Homo sapiens: one gene and its partner. The protein of the gene in region 2 binds, or shares a complex with, the protein of the main gene of each other region. Each region holds a gene or a part of one and is shown on either strand. Other genes may lie near its edges. A codon is read from its position in the direction of its gene.

Region 1 (11,327 bases), on a different chromosome or scaffold from region 2:
AACCACAGTTTGTCTGCCAGTTATTCTTTTTTTAGATGCAGTTTTGCCCTTGTTAACCAGGCTGGAGTACAATGGCGTGATCTTGGCTCATAGAAACCTCCACCTCCCAGGTTCAAGTGATTCTCCTGCCTCAGCCTCCCGAGCAGCTGGGATTACAAGCATGCACCACCACACCCAGCTAATTTTGTATTTTTAGTAGAGACAGGGTTTCTCCATGTTGGTTAGGGTGATCTCAAACTCCCGACCTCAGATGATCCACCTGCCTTGGCCTCCCAAAGTGCTGGGATTACAGGCATGAGCCATCGCACCCGGCCTGCCAGTTGTCCTTTCGTGTAATACTGATGTTTCACTTTTTATTTTTTTAATTATTATTTATTTATTTATTAATTTTTGAGAGAGTCTCGCTCTGTCGTCAGGCTGGAGTGCAGTGGCGTGATCTTGATTCACTGCAACCTCCGACTCCCTGGTTCAAGCGATTCTCCTGCCTCAGCCTCTCAAGTAGCTGGGATTACAGGCATGCACCACTACGCCCAGCTAATTTTTGTATTTTTAGTAGAGACGGGGTTTCACCATGTTGGCCAGGATGGTCTCAATCTCCAGACCTCGTGATCCACCCGCCTCAGCTTCCCAAAGATTACAGGCGTGAGCCACCACATCGTCCATTATGTTTCATTTTTTAAAAGGCTAGTTTAACTTGCAACTCAATAGCACAAGCACAGTTTCTCACTTTGATATGTAGTAGGAATACTTTTTCTTCACACAGAACATCAAAAAGAAATCTAAAAAAGTACTTAAGAATTTCAGGATTGAGATTTAATAAAAATTGTTACCACTTCATCATGGATGGACATTCTTAAGGTAAACTTCTTTTTTTTTTTTTTAACCGGCAGATGCTTAGTGGTAAAGAATATAAGGTTTTGTTCCAGTTTGGTGCCCAAAACATCAGCAGTTTTACATAACATTGCTTTGGCACCATCAGTGCAAATGTCAACCCAGTGAAAAGATCAAATAACACGTTAGCTTTATTATTAAAATTGTTTGACCTGTGAACTCCCTGAAACGGTCTCAGGGACCCCCCACCCCATAAGGTCTACAGACCACACTTGGAGAACTACTGCATTAGACCTTGCATCACAATCCTGGGAATTCAGGGAGGTAGCATGGCTTTCCACCACCAGCAAGTACTACACAGGGTAAGAATATAAAGAAACAGGCATCTCATTTATGTCTTAGAAGAGCAATTGAAGTAACTCCATGAAAGTAAATGGTTAATTTAAAGGCACAGCCACACAATGAGTTTCTGATTTGAGAAGACGAAGGGTCAAATGACCCCATTTCTGCCCCCTTCTTATGGCTGCTTTCATCATAACTTAGTTCTTCCCTCTCCTTCTTATCTCCCCTGACCTAGAAGAGTGTAGGGGACAGAGTTTGCAAGACTGTACTTAAGCCAAGGTAGTAAATTCAAATGCCTACAGGGGCTGGGCAATCTATATGAACGAAGTGCTTTACTTAAAAGAATGTGGGTCTAATGTCTCCAAATCTTAGTTTTCCAAAACCCAGGAAATTATTTTTATTTACATTTTAAAATGTTAACAAAAAGTTAAATTTTAAAACATTGCCTTGCCACAAACCACCTCCTTTTAACATCTTACCACATCTATATCTAAGAAAAGGAAAATATTTACTGGAGTACCTTAACCTTGCTAAGGAATGATGGAACAAGTCATTCCACATCACATTGGGAATAAGAATTTCAAAGATTGTTTGCATGAAGGGTACAGAACAAATTATCATAAAAATAACACTCATTTTAGGGAGAAAATGTGAGCGAGAAATAGTAGGTAATGAGAGTACCTACTCTTTGCTAGGCTGTGTTATATGTGATATATTATTTGTTTGCTTGTTTAATGTATGTCTTAGACATAGTCTTAGGGAAGGACTTTTGTTCACAATTGTACCTGCCCCTCACTTGCCTGGCACCTAGCATAGGAACATAGTACACACTCAATTAATATTTATAAAACGAATGAATGAATCTCATTATTTTTTCATTATACAGACAAGAAAACAGATTCAAAGAGAACATGCTATTTGTTCAATATAATTCAGTGAGTAAAAACAGAACTAGGAGGCTGGGCGTGATGGTCATGCCTGTAATCCCAGTGCTTTGGGAGGGCGAGGTAGGAGGGCTGCTTGAGGCTAGCAGTTTGAGACCAGCCTGGGCAACATACAAGACCTTATCTTTAAAAACAACAACAAAAAAAACAGAACTAGGAAATGAACCCAACTTTCTGTGTTCTTTCCATTAATTTTATCCTCTGAAATTAAAGTAAAACCCAAATATGTAACTCCTTTTTTCTGCTATTGTATAAGCTGTTCTCAAAGACTCTAGAATTTCTCTTTTCACGTTTTGTTACTCTGAGTTTAATGGCAACAAGGTTTTCCACCCTAGTTTCCAATAAAGCTTTAGGAATGTAATTGCCATGTAGAACACTCTATCCAACACAGGAAAGAAAGACTCCTAAAAATTCCTAATCTTCCAATTAGATTATTTTTACTTTGTGCTGAAGAAAACCTCGCCTGATCCTATGGATTTCCCCTAAATGCCATATATCAAAAACTACCGATAAAGGCAAACAAAAACCCCCAAGGCTAGGGAGGTTAAAATGAAACTGGAAACTGTACATATTGCTGGTGAATAAATTGGTACGATCCTTTTGGAAAAAATACATAGTAACATAAAATGAATCACAAAAATGTTCATACCATATAATCCAGCAGTCTCACTTCTGGGAATTTATCCTAGACAAGTTATTCAACAGGAGAAGAAAAAATTATATACAAATGCTCATTCCATCATTGTCTCTAACAGCAAAGAATACAATAAGAATTTTTTAAAAAAACAAAATACACAAGAAAGTGGCTTAATAAAAGATAGCACATGCTGAAAATAAATTATTCTTCAGCTGTTAAAAATAATCATGAAGACTGGGTAGTGATACGAAAAACTGCCATGGTATTAAATAAAAAGAATACAAAAGGATTTGTATACTATGATCACTAACTTTGCAGACAGCTATGTCTCCATGTATACAAGGGTTGAAAGGTAATACTCAGAAAAGAAAATGGCATCACAGGGTGGAATGATTTGAGTTGCTTATACTTATATTTTTTTCAGAATTTTCTTTACTGTTGTACTGTCTATTACGTATAATTTTTCAAGTCTTTCTGAAGTAAATTGGGATTTCTGAGCTTTTCTCTAATTCTCACTTGGAAAAAAAGCAGAAACACTGCTTCTTCCCATCTTGATTAACAGTGCTCTACTTAAAAAAGAAAACGAACATATTTCCAAATGTCCACATCTAAAGATGGAGAGCAAGAAAACAGAGCTGGATTCATTCAGGATGTTGCTGCTATCTGAAGGACTGATGTCGAATTCAGGAACCCAGTGAGGAGAGAAAGGAAGAGGGATCACCAGGGCCTTCTTCAGGGTGATGATGTGTTCCCAAGGCCACCTGGAGAGAGGCCTGGGGCAGCAAAAAATCAGCACACTTGCCTGCCTCACCAGGCTGCTGTCTGGTATCATCTCTTCCGTTCATTTCTGAGGTATTTTCTGAGGCCCTCACACTCTGAGGAAGCCCAGATGCCTGAGATGTCACAAAGCCATGCTGTACTTCAGAAGAGATGTCACAGAGAAGGACACCCCTCAGGAGTCATGGCCAAAGGTCATGTCCCATGTGCCTAGCTGGGAGGGACAGGTCCCCTAATGCCAAATATCTGGCTGCTACTCCACTTTGCAGACAGAAAACTCAGCTTTGTCTGCTCTCTCAGACCTCTGTCAACCTAGGAAAAGTGACACACACTGAACAAACACCACATGAGCTGTGTGTTTAAGTCATGTGGTTGCCTTTTGAAGGAGAGGGAGCTGGATAGAAAACTGGATTGAGCCAGACAACTACCCAGGGTACTCCCTCTACAACCAGATCAAGCCATTGATGAGAAGAATGTTAGGTGAACACAGAACCCAACGGGTAGTGCTGGGTCCACTCTGGGAGGCCTTCTGTTCAGCCGCGTGACCTGAGGGACAGAACGTAGCTCCTCTATAACCAAGGAACCTGGCAAACTATCCAAGAGGAGTGTCTTAGCACCCAGAACCCTACCTCAACCCCTTGCAGTGGTGGTCCTTATTGTAGGCCCCAGCTCTAATACCACTGATGGTTCCCTTTCATTCCCAAGGCCCTGCCCAGCTTACCTCCATTGACAGATCATCTTCCCAAGGTTAGGTTCCAGGTAACCCAGCTCATTTCTTGTGCACTTACTGGCCAGTTTTGATGTCAAATAGACGACGATGTCTTCTTTGATCTCCCCTCCTATTCTCAAGACCCCTCTTCCTGCTGGTCACATGCAGTATGTGATTAAGGTTGATGGAGGGATGAAGACCATAATGCTGTAAGGTCAGAGAGGGACTGGTCACTGAGGTAAAAGCAGGGGATCTGGAGAGAGAAGACTAAAGGCTAGGCCCAGGCTCTGTACCTGACCACCTATGCAGCGTCTGACAAGTCACCCAATTCTTCTGTGCTTCAGTTTTCACACACGTAAAATGAGGCTGGTAGTGCTGTACCTTCAGGCAGATGTATTTTGTAAATTGCCAAGTGCTCTGAAAATGTTGGTTGTTATCCTTGTGGACTGAAGTGTTCTGGGAAGAAGCAGAATATAAAGTTGGCCTTAAAGGTTGAGGAAGATTCAGGACATGTGGTCAGGAAGAGGATGGGCACTCCGGGATGGGAAACAGCATGAGCAAAGGCAAAAATGCAAATGGGATATACCAGGCACGGCTGCAGTAGAAAGCTTGTGTAAGGGAGAGGCTGGGGTAAGGCTGGAAAGGCAAGTGGGCTATATTCTGTTGGTCATAAGGAGCTACCGAACTTTTTGATCAAGTAAAAGAATGAAAGTCATGTTTTCGGAATACTAACGTGGTGGAGGTGTGAAGGATACAGAAATTGGAGGAGGGTTAGAATGCAGGCAGAGTGAACAAAGGAAGGTGTTGTAAACTCCAGTTAAGAGATATGATGGGGGCCTGAATGAAGGCAGGGCACTAAGGCTTAAACAGAGGAAGCACATTGGGGAGATACAGAAACAAAAGGATAGGGTGACAGTGTAGTAGAAGAAGAGAAGGCTTGGGGACAATTTTCATTATCTAGGTGGACAATGGTGCCACTCACCAAGACAGAGAATAAAGGAGAAGGCACCAGTGAGCAGTGCAGATTGAGTTCTTTGGATATGTTTACTTTGTCTGTAGAATGTCCAAGGAATACTAACCAGTAATTAAGTGACCATATGGGTGTGGAGCTCAGCAATAAGGATGTGAATTGAAGCCACCCAAGAAGACCATGTACTGTGAAAAGATAAGGACAAGGACAGAAGGCTGAGGAACATCAACATTCAAATGGTGGACAACGCTGGATGGAAGAACCTGAAAAGAAGACTGAAAAGTGACCAAAGAGTAGGAGGAAGGCAAGACTTTTTCTAGAAAAAGACGCCAACAGATTAAAGTACAACAGAAAGAACAAGTGATATGAAGAATAGGAAGAGTCCAATTTGGCAATTCGTTCATTAATGACATTAGTAAGAGCAATTTCACTGAAGTCACAGGCTGTGAGCTAGACCGCAGTGAACAATGGATGGGAAGGTGCAAATGGGCAGGATTTGTAGACTACTCTTTTGGGGAGCTTGGCTGTAAGGGCAAGGACATGGGAGAATTTTGGAATTTTTTTTTTTTTTTTTGAGACGGAGTCTCGTTCTGTCGCCCAGGCTGCAGTGCAGTGGCGCGATCTCGGTTCACTACAAGCTCCGCCTCCCGGGTTCACGCCATTCTCCTGCCTCAGCCTCCCGAGTAGCTGGGACTACAGGCGCCCACCACCACGCCCATCTAATTTTTTGTATTTTTAGTAGAGACGGGGTTTCACCGTGTTAGCCAGGATGGTCTCGATCTCCTGACCTCGTGATCCGCCCGCCTCGGCCTTCCAAAGTGCTGGGATTACAGAAGTAAGCCACCACGCCCGGCCAGAATTTTGGATATTTTAGCTAAAATATATTTTAGCTGAAGGGGGCAAGACAAAGAAAAATAAATAAATACACGCTCACACATACACACAGAGAATAACTGAGGGGATGGGATTTTAAAAATTTATTTCATTTTTCCCATGGGATCTATTAATAGACTAGCGAGGGGATGGGATCTTGAACACTGGTTGAAGGAACCGACTTAAGAGCGAAGACATGCTGCTATTAGCGAAGACAGGGAGGTGAGGGTAAGTTCATTTATTCACTCAACAATCACTAGTTGAGTGTGGATTAAAAAAAACAGTCCTTGACCACATAAGGAATTAGGTCTAGTAGGGAAGACAAACGTAGGTCAATAAATTACATAAGGGTTATACTAGATTGTGTGGTGGTACAGGTGGGGAAGCGAGCAACTGTCTGCATTGTGTCCAGGAAAGGGTCACAGGCGTGTTATGTAGATTCTGGAGAAAATTCAAAAATAGCATTTATTTTTACTTATTTACTTTTGTATGTGGAGACGAGGGTCTCACTATGTTGCCCAGGCTGGTGTTGAACTACTCGCCTCAAGAAATCCTCCCGCCTCGACCTCCCAAAGTGTTGGGACTACAGGTGTGAGCCACCGCGCCTGGCCTAAATGTGGCATTTAGAAAAAGTATTTACAACATCTGCATTAAAAGGACCATAAAGCAACCAGGCATCTAAGTCCCTGAAGCAATTTAAGTTGCTCAAACTTGAGAGGACAACCAAATGATAGCAAAAGGGCAAAAGAGAAAGGAAGCTGCAGTGCCCACTCAGAAGTGTGAGAGCGGGAGAAGGCATTTCGGGAGCCGCCCGAGCTTCAGGAAACCGAGCGAGACACCAGGTGGGCACACTGAGGATTAAAGAGGGCCTCGCGGTTCCGCACTGCGGCCGGGAGACAAACCAGTAGCCACTATCACCAGCCCCGGGCAGACCACTAAGAACTGTGGAGGTGCGCGGGGCGGCTCAGGGCTGGCGCATTTGGTGAGGAGCTCAGACAACGAGGCCCTTAGGGTCGGCTTAGGCGGTTCCCTGACCAAGGCGCCAGAAAAGGGCCTGGCTCAAGCAAGCACGGGCGGCGTGCAGTACAGCACACCTAGCCCCGATTCTTCAACAGTTCTCGCCCTCCGAGCCTAGCACAACGAGCCTCACCGAAACCGTACACCGCCACCAGGACACTCCGTGATGGGGGATCACCACCCTCAGAAAGAGGAAGCGACTAGCAGGCGCGCAATCCCGCGAGACCAGGAGGCCCCGCCCGAAGCCCGGCCTCTGTGACCGGAAGTGAGGCGTTTTGCCCCGCCCCCGTGGCCGATACCTCGCGAGACTTGGCGAAGGCCTTCCTTTTTCGTCTGGGCTGCCAACATGGTAGGTGTTTCGTTTCTTGCCTCCTCTTCCTTGCCGGCGGAGACCCCTAAGCTGTATTCCCATTGCCCCTAGTCATCCACTCCCTACCATGGTCGGGGCTTCCAGGCTGCGCATGGCCGCCTGCGGGGCAGGGTGGCCGGCGCGGGCCCGGGGCGGGGCTCCCGGAGCCGTGTGTTAGGCCCGCGGTTCGGATCTCTAGGACACGCGGGCCCCTGCGCTACCGTGGTGAGACCTCACGGCCCTGAGCGGATCGGTACCCTCAGCTTTCCCAAACGCTCCAGAAGTTAGGTCTTTGACCCACAGGCTTACAGGACCATCTCGGCTGGCGGGCATCGCCCCCTGCCCCTAATTCCTTAGGCCTTACCACCAAGCTTTTTCCACACAGCCATCCAGACTGAGGAAGACCCGGAAACTTAGGGGCCACGTGAGCCACGGCCACGGCCGCATAGGTAAGTGCCGGCTTCCCCTCGGGGTGGGCCTTGGGCTCTCTTCGGGTGCTTAGCTAGTCTGGAGATCGGTAGCCTATAAGTGGGTTAGAATAAGACCTTTTTGTGGTCAAGTTGCACAGCTGTTGATTTTTTTCTGACGATCCTCTAGTATTCCAGTTCTAAGGAATTTCACATCAGTGGGGTAATAGGAATTGAGCAGGCACGGTATTGGGTTAGTTGAAGACATGGAGTACTGTGGGAATGCTGTGATGTGGAACCTGAAAAGATGTTTCACCCGGAATCCTAAAGTAATCGCATTGCTGAAAACCGGCATCGGTAGGGTGGGAACAGCGTAAGCGGGACACAGAAGTCTGGGAAACACTCTGCTTTTGTGCGAGGAAGTATTGAGATGCATGAGAAGGCTGTGTGGTGCATGTAGCTTTTTTGTGTGTGTGTGAGACTGATCACTGTCGCCCAGGCTGGAGTGCAGTGGCGAAATCTCGGCTCACTGCAACCCCTGCCTGCCGGGCTCAAGCGATTCTCCTGCCTCAGCCTCCCGAGTAGCTGATATTACAGGTGTGCGCCACGACGCCCGGCTAATTCTTTTTCTATTTTTAGTAGAGTCGGGGGTTTCTCCGTGTTGGCCAGGCTGGTCTCGAACTCCTGACCTCAGGTGATCTACCCCCCCTCGTCCTCCTAAAATGCTGGGATTACAGGCATGAGCCATCACACCGGCCCCACGTAGCTTTGTATTCCTGCAGGCAAGCACCGGAAGCACCCCGGCGGCCGCGGTAATGCTGGTGGTCTGCATCACCACCGGATCAACTTCGACAAATAGTAAGTGTCCTTGGACTGCTTTTATTGACACAGCTTGGGAGGTAGGGGCAGAGAGAGGGCTGGCTTAAACAAAAAGTTTAGAAGCAAGCCTTGCCTATTGCTGTTTTTTACCAAGTTAACACTTGGTGTGAACTGAGAACCTGTCATCGAGGCTAGAGTCACGCTTGGGTATCGGCTATTGCCTGAGTGTGCTAGAGTCCTCGAAGAGTAACTGCTGACCTTATTCACTGGCTGTGGGCCTTATGGCACAGTCAGTCACCAGGTTAGAGACATGCTTCACATTCACCTACCCACAAACTAGTGGATGATAAATTTTGGCTATTCAGAAGACGTTTATTATAGGAGTATGTAGATTTTCCATAGAGTGCTGTTATGTGACTTGAATTTTAGTCTCGGCCCTGCCTCTGACATTGTCGGTGGTTTATCCTGGTTCCAGGAAATAAGACTAGCCTTTTCCTCATGATAGTCTTTGGTGGTTTTTAAAACAGTTGTTTAAGTCAACAGATGTATCATATGCCTGACACTGCTCTACACCAGTGAATAATTTACACTCTAATAGGGGGTGGTAACTATAAAGATGATAAACATAGCATCTTAATTGGAGTGTGTATGAAGGTGGTTGTTACCTCTTCCTAGCCACCCAGGCTACTTTGGGAAAGTTGGTATGAAGCATTACCACTTAAAGAGGAACCAGAGCTTCTGCCCAACTGTCAACCTTGACAAATTGTGGACTTTGGTCAGTGAACAGACACGGGTGAATGCTGCTAAAAACAAGACTGGGGCTGCTCCCATCATTGATGTGGTGCGATCGGTAAGTTAATTGGATGTTTTTCTGTACTTCCATACCTTCCCTTACAAAACTCTGGCTTAATCTAATCCACTTATATAATCTGTACTTCCCAGTTACCTACCAGACATTGATATTCTTCCTGTGGTAGAATTATCATAGGTAGTTCCCTATCCGTAGCAGTGCCTACTGTCACTGCCCAGGTTGTATCAGGTTTGCATTTCGTGCTTGAACTATAGCTGGTTTTCACTGAGCACAGCTCTTGGCCCTTCATGTTCTCCAGATAATAGAATCCTAATATGTTCCATTGATACTCAGTGCCATGCATTATCTGAAGAGATTTTCCCCCAAAACAGATGTATTATGTCTGTCCTTGCGGGGGTTCTGGTCCCTGTGTCAGTCTTAACTCTCATGAATATAGAGGTAGTGTTAAGAGGCCAGAACCCTAGGGACGCTTTAAATTCACTTCCCAGCCTATTTAATGTCCATTGAGTAGTTCTGGTGGTCAGGAAGGTGGTTGTCTTCTTTTGCTTAGCAGGGGGTATTTGAGCAGGAGGAGGCTTATGCTTTGCCGAGACTAGAGTCACATCCTGACACAACTCTTGTCCTGGTGTGCTAGAGTACTCGAAGAGAATCTACTGGTCTTGATTCACTGGTGGGGGCAGTCGGTGCCCCCGTTAGTGCCCAGATCAGAAACATACATACCCTGCCTAGGGATTTAGAAAGTGGGTTGGCAGTCTTTCCTCACGCCCATCACGCAGTTGGTACCTACTACAGTGTATTGTAAACTTTTTTCTCTGTTCTTCTAGGGCTACTACAAAGTTCTGGGAAAGGGAAAGCTCCCAAAGCAGCCTGTCATCGTGAAGGCCAAATTCTTCAGCAGAAGAGCTGAGGAGAAGATTAAGAGTGTTGGGGGGGCCTGTGTCCTGGTGGCTTGAAGCCACATGGAGGGAGTTTCATTAAATGCTAACTACTTTTTCCTTGTGGTGTGAGTGTAGGTTCTTCAGTGGCACCTCTACATCCTGTGTGCATTGGGAGCCCAGGTTCTAGTACTTAGGGTATGAAGACATGGGGTCCTCTCCTGACTTCCCTCAAATATATGGTAAACGTAAGACCAACACAGACGTTGGCCAGTTAAACATTTCTGTTTATAAAGTCAGAATAATACCTGTTGATCACTGAAAGGCCTGCATGTATTGTACTCTGAATTTTACAGTGAATGAGAGAATGTACCCTAATTGTTCAACAGGGCTCAAAAGGAAAGATTCCATTTTGATGGGTCACATTCTAAAGAGGGGCAGTGTGATAGGAATGAGATGGTCCTTTAGGACTTAAGTTCTCAGCCCAAGGTTTTTCCACGTGGCCCCCTCATCTTTTTTTTTTTTTTAAACGGAGTCTCTCTTGCCAGGCTGGAGTGCAGTGGCACGATCTCGGCTCACTGCAGCCTCCGCCTCCCAGGTTAAGCGATTCTCCTGCCTCAGCTTCCTGACTAACTGGGATTACAGGCGCCCACCACCATGCCCAGCTAATTTTTGTATTTTCAGTAGAGATGGGGTTTCACCATGTTGGCCATGCTGGTCTCTAACTCCTAACCTCAAGTGATCTGCCCACATCGGCCTCCAAAAGTTCTGGGATTATAGTGTGAGCCACTGCGCCCGGCCATGGCTCCTTAATCTTGATCCAAATTATTGTTACATCCAGAATGTGATGAATCAAAATCTCGAGATGGGGGTCCAGCAATCTGAAATTTCAGTATGCCAGGGCTTTTCTGTATGTCAAAGTGGGTTTGAAATAGTTAATTTTTCTTCTAGTCTGAAATGTATCGG
Region 2 (11,382 bases):
CTATGTCATGGTATTATTTATTAGGCAGTATAATTATCCCAAATAAACCTATTCAACTGTCTCAGCAGTTCCTACTCACAGGTTTAGCCTGTGGCCACTGACACAGCAAAGTCAAATATCTTGGATTTGGCTCCCATCAGCATCAGGGCCCACATCTAATTAGATGTACTCTGAGTTACAAACATTTGACTAGAGAAAAACTAACAGCCGCCCACTGCCAGGTGCTCCTCACCGCAGCACCACCCCAACTGTTGCGCAGGTCAATCAATGCGCCCTGGACCCGCGGTGTCTCCTGGTGGCTGGAGCAGGCCACTGCCTTCTCCTGTCTCCACTAACCACCTGAACCTGCTCACTTCCAACTCTGAGCTTATTCCTGAAAACGGCCACTTTTATCAGAAACTCCCCTTCGTTTAAAGAAATAAAGCCCCTAAAGGCTGAAAAGTGAAGGCTAAAAGTAGTTATATCTAAAGCCTTGAAAAAACTATAACTTTTTAACTGAAGATTTTAAATAATACCAATATCATTAGCCCCTAACACAGCACTTCTCCAACTTTAATGTGCACACAGATCACCTTAGCATCTCAATAAAATGCAGGATATGATCCACTAGCTCCAAGGTGAAGCCTGAGGTTCTGCATTTCTAACAGGCTCCCAGGTGATGCTTCTGCTGCTGACACTGCTGAGTAGTCGAAGCCACACAGCCAAGCCTTGCAAAGCTCCTTCAGAACTGCCTCCAAACCACAACTATTGATACTTAGAGGGTAGGTTTCCCTCATCTGTTTCCAAGAACTGTAATTCAAATTATTTAAATTTCCTGAGACTGCAAAATTCTATCTTAAAGTCCTTTCCCTCTGGGAAGGGACTCCATCACTTTCAACAGATTCTTAAGGAAGTCCCTATCTCCTGACAAGGTTAAGAACCACTGTACTTATAAAAACCAAAATTTCTGAAAGACTTGTTATTTATAAATGGTATAGTTTCCTACTTTGGTGAGTTATCAGAATTGCAAGAATACTGTTTTCTGTTCTTTTGTCATTATAACTAAGCAGTATTTCAGCTACACTGTAGACTAAGTGGAATTAATGTTCTGGCCTGGGAAGTAAGCATCCTGGAACGATGTGTTGCATACTGTGTGACGTGTTGCAACTTATAAAAGAAACTTTAGATTGAAACCCAGATGTAAACTGAACAAATTAAGAAAGGAAATGTCAAAATATAAAACCCTCTAAACAGCTCCATTCCTTCAAAAGACCAGGTGCTTTTGATAAGGAAACACAGGACATGGTGGAAGACTAACACAAACTGATACTACAGGAGAGGGGTAAAGCTTGAAGCTTAGAAAAAAAAAATAAACTTTAGTGTTTAGGATATGTGGTCAGTAAGACACATTTTCTGAAAATGTTTCCTTTAAGTGAAACAGACCAGCTTGAATTCTCCAGGAAAGAATTAAGGCTTCAGGAAGGCACAGCATTGCTAGTACATGGAACTCTCAAGTGATGGAGAAATACAAAGAGATAGAAAAATGGATTCGGGAAGGGGTACTGCTTATGCAGAAGACGTTCCATAGCAGGCCTGACTGCTATCCTTTGAAAGTGCAGCTTGTGGCCGATGTCTGAGAACTTAAGATTTTGGGAGAGTTTCCACCACCATTAACTGATAGGAGTGGCTCACCATGCCTAAAATGTACAATCATTACAGTTTATACCAACACCTGCTTTCCTCTGGGAGTCTGGAAACGTTGGTATGTGCCAGGCAGGGGTGGCCTAAGTGAAAAGCCCCCAGTAAAAGCCCTGGGCACTGAGTCTCTAACAAGCTTCGCAGGTTGGCAACATTTCACAAGTGTTGACACAACTAGTTGCTGGAGCAACTGAGCACAGCCAGTGTGACCGCTCGAAGACCCTTGGAGCCTTGCACTTGGTATCCCCAGAACTTCACCCATGTGCCTCTTCCCTTTGCTGACTGTGCTTGATATCTTTTCCCTGTAATAAATCAGCCGAGTCCTCCTAGCAAATTGCTGAACTAAAGATGGCCTTGGGGACCACAGCACATTGCTCACGTTTAATTTTTAAAAACTTAGATTGGTTTATTAGGTTTGTATTACTAAAGGCACCCTATAGAGTCATTTTATATTCAGCCACACATCTCTTATCTCTCACAATTGGTCAGTTTAAAATTCATTTAAGGGGAGAGAGCAGGAGGAAGATGCAAACGAAAAGCTTTTCTTTAAGCATAATATATGAATACAGTATAAGCACATTCACCAGAAAGTGTGGCTAATCAAAGAATGCAAAACACTTAAGCCAAAATAAAATCACTTAAAAGAATCTTTCCCATCTACAATCACTAACAAACCCCAATACTGTATAACAAATGCTTTCCTTAGAATATAAATTTCACTACCCATACTGCCAAAAGTTACATCATTTGTTTCTCTGTGTTCATGTTGAAATGATTTGAGGCTCAGTTAATTGGAGCCTAAGCTTAGAGGTTTCTGGGCAAATACATTATTTCTCTGATTCTCACACTACTCATACTGTAAGACAACCATTCCTCTTAACAGCTTTCTAGAGCAGAGGGGAGAATAGATGAAGCATCCTACCACATTAAACATACAAAAGTCTTAAGGTACATATCATAATTTCGGAAACAGCAAGAAGTAAAACACATATCTTAGAATCCAATACTATAGTAATTAAAGAAGACAATGCTTTGTCTAGAATAGTACAGCCAACACAACCTTGCCCATAAGCCTTAGAGACCACCCCAATAGGAGTAAATATTTCTGTAAAATCACAGAAAAGTTTTTGAAGAGCAATTGTTTTCCATTTGAGTTGACTATAAGCATTAAATGTAAAAAGACTAAAAGATTTACAGTTCATACTTTGGTGACTACCCCACAGATAAACCCTATAAGAAAATCAATGTTGACAACCATACTATAGGCAACAGACAGACAGTCACTATATTTTAAAGGTACCCTAACCTCCTTTTCTATAATATTTGAGGACATGAAGACGTGAGGAAGCTCTTGAAGGAAAGGATTTGTATATCCCCGGAAACAAGCACGGTGTGGTACATAGGAGGTCCTCAAGAAATGTCTGCTGAATTTTTCACATTTTCATCTTTTGTCTGTATACAATTTTGGAGACAAACCACAAAGGCCTTACACAAAACAGTTACGGAAAAAACAGATGGCCTGTGCAGAGGGGATTATTTTTCTGATTGCAGCTGTCACTTCAGGATTCAAGAGTATCGTAAAAGCTAAAAGGCACTTTAGACATCAGTAGTTATTACTAAATCGGGGAGGGAAGTATGAATTTCTACATCCCCTGGGCAGTTTTACAGAATGTAGTTCAGAGTTACCAGCAAGGTTGTTAGCATGCAAATTTCTGGGCCCTCATCAAGCCCACTGGATTGCCACTTCTGATGGCTGAGGCCCATAATCTGCATTAACGTAATACGCTCTCTAGATGAATTTTAGGTCCACTAATGGAGGACAACAGTCAAACGCAGCTCAGTTAAACACACGGCTGTCAGAAATTATATATTGCTTGTAACAAGGTTGCCCAGACTGATCTAAAACATTTCTTTTTGGCTCAGAGATATGTTAATCAATCCAGAGGGAAAACTGGTTCTCCTATTGACCTAAAGGAGTGATCAGCAGTTATCTTTTTAGTCTGATTTTAGAGAGGAAACGGACTATACCTCAATGTATTTTCGTGACCATGAGGTTACAAAGCTTGATGTCCAGGAGGCAAAAACCAGTACCAGCAGAAGAAGCTGAGTAAATCAGGTTCCTCTGCTCAAAGATGAGCCCAGTGACATGAAACCCGAGGCACCAGATTTACAGCTAATGAGTGGCGAAATCAGATCCTCTTCCTCCCAGTCTATCCTTCCTGAAAACAGTGAATAACCTGGTCTCAGTAACCTGTTGGACAACCCAGCTGTCGGCCAATCGTTGCGGAATTATTTGCTGGTAAATGAATTGGAAGCATATGATGTAATGCAGCTGCCCTTCTCCCCACACACCTGAACTTCAGATTTCACAGCTGTAGAGCGTGTCTCTTAGGCCCGACATGACGCCCGGCGGCGCAGCCCACGTGGAAGCCGTGCTCGCACAGGCAGTTCTGCCACCACCGGGCGGAGGCCGGCACCACCCTCCTTGCTAAGCCTCCAAACTTTCCGTGCGCTCGTCACCGGTGTCGCGACCATTAGCAGGCCACGTGTGCGACTCTCTGTAACCAAGGCTTCCGCGACCCTACCCCTAGATCCGGGCCCCACCCACCCTGCCCCAGTCTCCGGGGAGGTGGGACGCCTGGGAGCGCGTCCCAGGTCCCGCAACCACAGCGCCGGCCACCGAGGCTTCTCGCCGACCGACAGGTCTCCCAGACCCGCACCCGAGCCCGGGTGCCTAAAGCAGCAGCGCGCGCCCCGCGGGATCGGGCACTACCCGGCCTGCCCCGGCGCTGGGATGCCCACGAGAGCGCCCCACTCACCCGGCACGGCCTGTTGCTCGCGGCCGCGAGCCCACTGCGTTGCGGCGCAGCGGCTGGAGGCGGGGCAGCGTGGGCACGCTCCGGGCCGTGCTCCAGCCCCCGCCCCGCCCCGCCACGCCGGCCCGCAAGTGGTGGCAGCCCGGAGGCCTGGCTACCCGGCGGTGTTCCGCGTTCACGCCCGGGCGTTTCTTTAGTCCATATGGAAGGAAATAAATGGCCTTTTTTTTCCTCTTTTTTTTTTTTTTTTTTTTTTTTTTTTTTTTTTTATGGTATGTGAGACAAGGTCTCACTCTCGCCCAGGCTGGAGTGCAGTGGTAGCGATCTTGGCTCACTGCAACCTTTACCTCCCGGGCTCAAGCGATCCTCCTGCCTCGGCCTCCCAAAGTGCTGGATTATAGGTGTGAGCCACCCACCCGGCTCTCCTTTTTTTTCTTTTAACTTGGGGCGGCAGGAGAGGATTTGAGAGAGCGTTTTGGTGCAACTCCGTTCCTTTTATGAATAGAGAAGCAGGCCTGAAGAGGAATACCAGCGGTGCAAGTTTAGGGAGTTGGTGGTCCGGGTTCTCCCATGGCTTTCTTATGGGCTGTGTGGCTACACAATGCTGATTTGTACAAGCCGAGTGTCATTTATATCATCTCGCTCCGGGAGAGAGAGTCAATCCTAGTTTTAAAAGATACTGGAAATTCGTTGCGACTATGGCTATAGAAACAGAAGAAATGCAGTTATCTGAGTCCTTTCAGCCTAACACTCCCTGCTTTGGAACATTTGGTTCCAGTCAGGAGGCACAAATGAGGGAGCAGGGAAATCAGTGGCGGGCCTGTGCCTTTCTTTGCTCTGTAGACAGCCAGAGGACCCAGAGGAAGTCGACATTTCGTTCCGTCAAGGTGACTGAGACCAGTGGCTGCTTCTAAGGATCAAGTGGCACATGAACAAATGGGAACAAAGTACACCCTTGTCTAGTATTTGTCTAAAACTAACAATAATAGCAAGTCTTGAATTGAGTTCTTCCTGGCTATAAGGCACCACGCTAGGTGTTTCAAATACTCCTCACTTCATCCTCACTACAACCTTGCAATTACCTCCATTTTACAGTTGAGGAAACTGAGTCAGGAGAGGTTAACTAACTTGCACAAGATCACACAGCTAGGAAGATGCAGAAACAAGATTAGAGCCAAACCAGTCAGTCAACTGTTGGTCTTTTTCACGTTTTACTAATACTCGTATAACTAGTAAGTTTCCTGGCAGGTTCCAGTTGGAAAAACTCGAGGGTAACATCAAATTTAGCCCTTACAGGGTAAAAAAGAATAGTCAACAGCAAAAATCTCTAGTTGATATGATATTGGTAATGTACTTCGCTCTTTATTTTGACTGCAAGACATCTACTCAAGATAATATAGAATAATATTGCTGTTCCCGGGATTCAGATAAAGGTAAATTCTCACACGTCCACCACTTGGAAAAGCAGTACGGTTGTAGAAAAAAGTTATAATGTCAACACAAAATACCATTTTCTCAGCATATAAAATGGCCGCAGGATGTCTAACAGAACAAAAGTACATATGGAAGTCAGCTTTGCAGGGGGAAATCATACATCTTGTGTAGGAGTTCCTCTAATGCAAAATTAGTATATCAGTATGTTCTCTCTGATTTTTTTCATTATAATTCCGATTTCTTAGCATAGCAAGCAAAAAAGTCATGATAGTTCCATTTTCAGACCTAAACAGTGCCCATCATTCCTGTGAAGAAAAGGAGAAGGGGCCAGGTGCGGTAGCTCACGCCTATAATCCCAGGACTTTGGGAGGCTGACGCCGGTGGATCACCCGAGGTCAGGAGTTCAAGACCACCCTGGCCAACATGGTGAAACCCCCGTCTCTAACAAAAATACAAAAAAATTACTCAAGCATGGTGGTGCCTGCCTGTAATCCCAGCTACTCAGGAGGCTGAGGCAGGAGAATTGGTTGAACCAGGGAGGCGGGGTTGCAGTGAGCTGAGATTGCACCACTGCACTCCAGCTTGGGCAACAAGAGCAAAACTCTGTTTCGGAAAAGAAAAAGAAAAAGAGAAGGAAAGTTAGTTTGTGCTTGGGTGACAAGAGCGAAATTCCGTCTAAAGGAAGGAAAGAAGGAAGGGGCGGGGAGGGAGGGAGGAAGGGGGAGGGAGGGAAGGAGGTAGGGGAGGAAGTAAGGGTGTGGTGGGATGGTATGGGAGTGGAGAATGGCTTGCAACCTTGCCTGAGAGGAGGAAGAGGAGGTGAGGAAGTAAGGGTGGCATGGGATGGGAGTGGAGAATGGTCTGCAACCTTGCCTGGGAGGCTTCTAGAATATATGGCCTTCCTACATGTATTGTTTCTGGTATTTTTTTTTTTTTTGGAAAAGTTCTTCCAGAGGACAAGATGCAGACTGCTATCCAGTCCCCACCATAGGTTCATTTAAAAGTCAGTTATTTTGTTTCTGTAATTAATTTTCTCATGAAAACAATGTTGTAGATGGCAGCTCTCAAGATCTGTCCGGAAAAGTCTAGAAGCCTCCAGATTTCTAATCAACAGACTAGCGCTCCTCCTCTGTAACTGAGGAACAAGATGCCAAGGAGACAGGAGAAAGAAGAGAATTCCCTTCATGTCTCGGCCATAAACCCTGAAACAGACTTGTCCATGAGCCTTGTAAAATAAGTTACATTTCTGCAGAGGTGCTTGACGTTCACACCGTTTGGATTGCTTTATTAAAAGACTCTTTTTAGAGCCAAGTTTGTCTTCCTCTTCTGTGGTCTCCTAGGCTCTTCTTCCTGTAGAGCTTTTGGTTTTTAGCCACCTCATTGTGGCTGTGCACCTGTCCAGCCTGGGCATCAGGCTGCAAAAGTGCAACCCTGTCCTACTCCTACCTCCAGTCACAATGATGCTGGGTGCAAAAAAATCTAAAAATGGTGGTGTGTAAATGTACTTTTTATGGTTATTAGATCTAACTCTGGAGGGGCCAGGTATATGAATTTGGAAAACTCTCTTTGCTAACATTCACTTTCCTCATTTATAAAGTAAGATTGCACCAGATGTACTGTGATATCCCTATTGGCACTCAAATTCCATAGGCTTAAGGGTCTGTGCTCCAATTTTCAAAGGGCATTAGAAGAAGAATCAGTCTGATTGGAATTACCTTTCAGTCTATAAACATTGAAGAACTTATAAAATGATTAATATTTGTATTTTTGTTGTAAAGCTTTATTTTATAATGCTACTGTGTCATACGATTCCAGGAAACACACATTGCTTTAAACTATGTGAGTACTGCCCCCTATGTGTTTGTATTCACTTTGGTCCAGAAAATATCTAAACCATGTCTTTCTAGTATATGACTTTAATATTTATACCACTATATTGGGCTAACTTTTTAATATAAGGAAACAGACACATCAAGGTTAAGGAACTTGCTCAAAAATACATCATTTGATAGTCCATTTTTTTCATTTGGGCTGCTATAAGAAAATATCTAAGACTGGGTGGCTTATAAGCAACAAAAATGGACTTCTCACAGTTTTGGAGGCTTGTTCTCTGGTTCACAGAGGACACCTTCTAGCTGCATCCTCACGTGGTAGAAGTGGGAAGGCAATTCTGTGGGTCCTCTTTATAATCCCATTTATAAGGCTTTACCCGCGTGACATAATCTACTCCCAAAGGCCCCACCTTCCAATCACATTGGTGATTCTGTTTCAGTATATGAATCCAGGGTGGGGACAAACATTCAGACCATAGCACCCATACTGCCTATCAAGTAATATTCTTTGGACCTCTGTTTATGTTTCTCCAAAAGTGGTTAATTTCACCTAACTCGGAAAGATGCTGTGAGTTTCAGGTGAGGTGGAGTAAGCAAAAGAGTTTTAAAACTGTAAAATGCTATTGAGTGTGAGAGGCATTACTGTTAAATCCCATATGACATCTTGAACATGATTCCATGGAATGAATTAAATGCAGTTGGGCCTTTTATACATGCATACTTCACTTAATTTACACAATTCATCAAGCAGAGTACCTTCAAATTGATGTCATATCACCATGGGATAATCTTGGTGTCTTAGTACCTTCAGAAAAGTCAAATTTGTTTAACAATGACCCAGGCCGAGGTCTTTCAAGACTATAGTAGTTACGATACAGCTCATAGAACTCAACGTACTTAACTTGATAACAAGCATACCATCACCGTTTGGAATTATATTTTGCATATTTATAAAACTATGATTTAAACTCCTTGGGAGCAAGAAATGTGCTTCTTTAATTCTGAGAACTGCAACAGAGTTCTTCACAGAGTAGTTACTCTGTTTACAAAATTGAATTGGGTAAGCATTCCTATTTTCTTTTCTTGCTTAGAGTCCAATTTCTTTTACAGCCTGTGCCTATAGGAAAGTTGGTGTTAGGCTGCATGACTTTTCTTAAATGATTCTGCAGACCTCCTTTCTCCAGCAACCCAGCACTTGCAGGTGAAAATATGCCTCAGGATTTTCCAATGACTTTCCCTTACAGAGATGTTTTCTTACTTAACATGTTATCATAAATCTTGAAATTGACTTGCCCAATTCTTATAAAAATATGTACTCCTGCAGAGGTGCTTTCTGCTCATACTCTTTGGGTTGCTTTGTTAAAAGGTACACAAGCTCCTATTGAAAATGTTTCCTACAAGACTAACAGAATGTATATATGGGTCAGGAAGCCCCAATATTATGATGCAACATTAGTTTACTTATTTTCCTTTAAAATATCATAATGACCTAAAAATGACCAACTAAGGTGGTACTAGTCAGGTACTGATGGGTCTGTTAATGAAGTTTTTTAAAACTTTCAAAGAAGAGAAAAATATACCTCATATAAACTGGTTCTGAATATAGAAAAGGAAAATAACTGAAAAAGAAAATTACAGACAAATGTTATTTATAAACCTAGAGGCCCAACCTTTGGTGAAATAACCTCTGTGGGATTTTGACTTGAAATTTCAGTTGAATCCCCCAAACTGGAAACAATATTATTATTTTTTATTTGTTCAATACTTACCACTTTCCATTTTCCAGGCCCTTTTAAAAAACTGAGTACATAAACTTATTAATACACACAAAAATCTAAAAGGAAGATACTATAACTCTCCAAGTTTTACATGTGAGGAAACTGAGGAACCAGGAAACTAAGTTATTGGCCAAAGGTCCCAAAGATCCCACTGGGGTTGGAAAGTTCTTGTACCCCAGATATACGGCCCTGGGAATGTGGAGGCTGCTTCTCACCTGGAATATCCTGAAGAAGGAGTTGGCCGGTGACCTCATCATAGCACTCTGAGGCAAAAAGGCAGTGTGGAAGCAGCCTACTCTCACACAGATTGTCACATCAAGGACCACTGAGCATCTTCTGGGCTGAGTGGTTGCTGTGGAAAGTAGTTAGGCTTGGACAACCTGGAAGGTGACAAAGAGAGTGGCATAGTGGACCAGGAAGCAGTGGGGTCCATTGGCCCAGACAGGAAAAGAGACACAGGGTCTTAGGCAGTCTGTCAGAGATCTCAAGGTTAATTTCAATAAACCCAGTCTCACCTCCAGATCAACCTTCTCCTTGTCAACTAAAGAAAAAGCTAGACTTTCAAAGAATTAAATTAATTTCATTCAGAGTCTCACTGACAATTGCAACCAGGGAGAGCCTTTCAGAGTTCTGTTAGACTGTTCCAAAGCAGTGTTTCCACCCATAACTTATACATTAGGTGGTGGAGGTTCTGTGCATGTTCAGAAGTTACATCGAATGTACTCAGAAGTTACATTAGAGCAAAATCTCATCAAAGTTTGGGTGCAAGAGTACATCTGGTTACAAATCACAGAGGTATAATTATTAATCCTGTCAGATGTTATCTTATGGACAGGAAAAGGCAAAAGCTAGGATCATTGGACTTATCTTTTCTAAAAATGCAGTGATTTAGGCAAGAGATGTGGGAATCTGTGCTCGGTTCTGCTTCTCATCCTCAAGGCATTCTTCCGGAGGGCTGTGCTTGTCACTGAGTCAGGGGCTTCTGAAGGTAGGCTGACAGGCAGAATGAGCAACATTGCTTTTTCACAGCAAGGGCTATGTGGCTGGCCAGAAGCAGACATTTGTTACTTTATCTCACACCCTGCATCCCTTGAAAGCTTCAACATTTGAATAGCTGTCACCAGGGCCAGCTACATAATTTGTGGGACCTGTTGCAAAATGAAAATATAGAGCCCCTTTTCAAAAGAGTGCCATTAAAGGTATTAACATATAAAACCATTCCCTTCTTTTGTCTCTCTTTCTTTACTATCAGGGTGGTATCTTTTATTTGCTGCTAAGTGCCGTGCTCTACCCTGGTGCAGGAAGGTGAGTGCCGACATTCACAGGCACCCAGGGCCCTGCAGGGCCATTGGGTGCTGCTAAATTAAGAAAAAATATATATAAAATTGTAAAGGAAAGGAGACTTTATTTCCCATAAAGGATTATACCCTGCAAGGTGCCCATCCCTCAGGCTTCCTTTCTGGCCAAGACCAGGAAGAGGCACTTTGGAAGGAGTGGGGGTGGGGGTAGGACTTTAATGCTTAACCAGTTGGCTAAACCTACATGCCCAGCAGTTATGGGAAGAGCTATGAATATTCATGAAGGTGGTCCTGACACTTGCATATTGAACAAATATGCATGTATTTAATAACATATGACCCATGTTCACTTTGAGGTGGAAACTTTACATTCAAATATATTGCAATTAGGCTCTATATGTCAAGAGATGTTTTTGGGATGCAAAGCCAGGCAAGTACACAACCTCTGTAAACCAGCCAGAGCTAGTCTATTGTTGGTGGTTTTCTTATCAGGATAAAGTTACTGAAATCAGTCTCTTGTCCAATCAAAGCTGAAGTTATGGCTGGT

What was found.
Region 1: the proteins of RIOX2 (region 2) and RPL27A are in contact, whole or in part, in a crystal structure (PDB 4BXF), measured with the Homo sapiens proteins. Residues at the interface, in NP_001035998.1 of Homo sapiens: Arg98, Asn101, Gln136, His138, Gln139, Leu161, Val162, Gly163, Ser164, Asn165, Tyr167, Leu176, Pro177, His179, Asp181, Asp182, Val183, Val211, Thr255, Ser257, Thr258, Gln260, Asp333, His337, Met405, Met406, Gly407; in NP_000981.1 of Homo sapiens: Gly36 (codon at 8,677), Leu38 (codon at 8,683), His39 (codon at 8,686), His40 (codon at 8,689), His41 (codon at 8,692), Arg42 (codon at 8,695), Ile43 (codon at 8,698), Asn44 (codon at 8,701).

The regions. Positions count from the first base shown.
Region 1 is NC_000011.10:8,675,368-8,686,694, forward strand, and holds the start of RPL27A (large ribosomal subunit protein uL15), read left to right. Parts: upstream 1-7,424; 5' UTR 7,425-7,446; coding exon 7,447-7,449; exon of another isoform or gene 7,450-7,834; coding exon 7,835-7,898; intron 7,899-8,638; coding exon 8,639-8,714; intron 8,715-8,859; exon of another isoform or gene 8,860-8,989; intron 8,990-9,350; coding exon 9,351-9,525; intron 9,526-10,071; exon of another isoform or gene 10,072-10,202; intron 10,203-10,310; coding exon 10,311-10,439; 3' UTR 10,440-11,327. UniProt on the Homo sapiens protein: Component of the large ribosomal subunit. The ribosome is a large ribonucleoprotein complex responsible for the synthesis of proteins in the cell.
Region 2 is NC_000003.12:97,967,885-97,979,266, forward strand, and holds the start of RIOX2 (ribosomal oxygenase 2), read right to left. Parts: upstream 4,548-11,382; 5' UTR 4,497-4,547; exon of another isoform or gene 3,706-4,496; intron 1-3,705. UniProt on the Homo sapiens protein: Oxygenase that can act as both a histone lysine demethylase and a ribosomal histidine hydroxylase. Is involved in the demethylation of trimethylated 'Lys-9' on histone H3 (H3K9me3), leading to an increase in ribosomal RNA expression.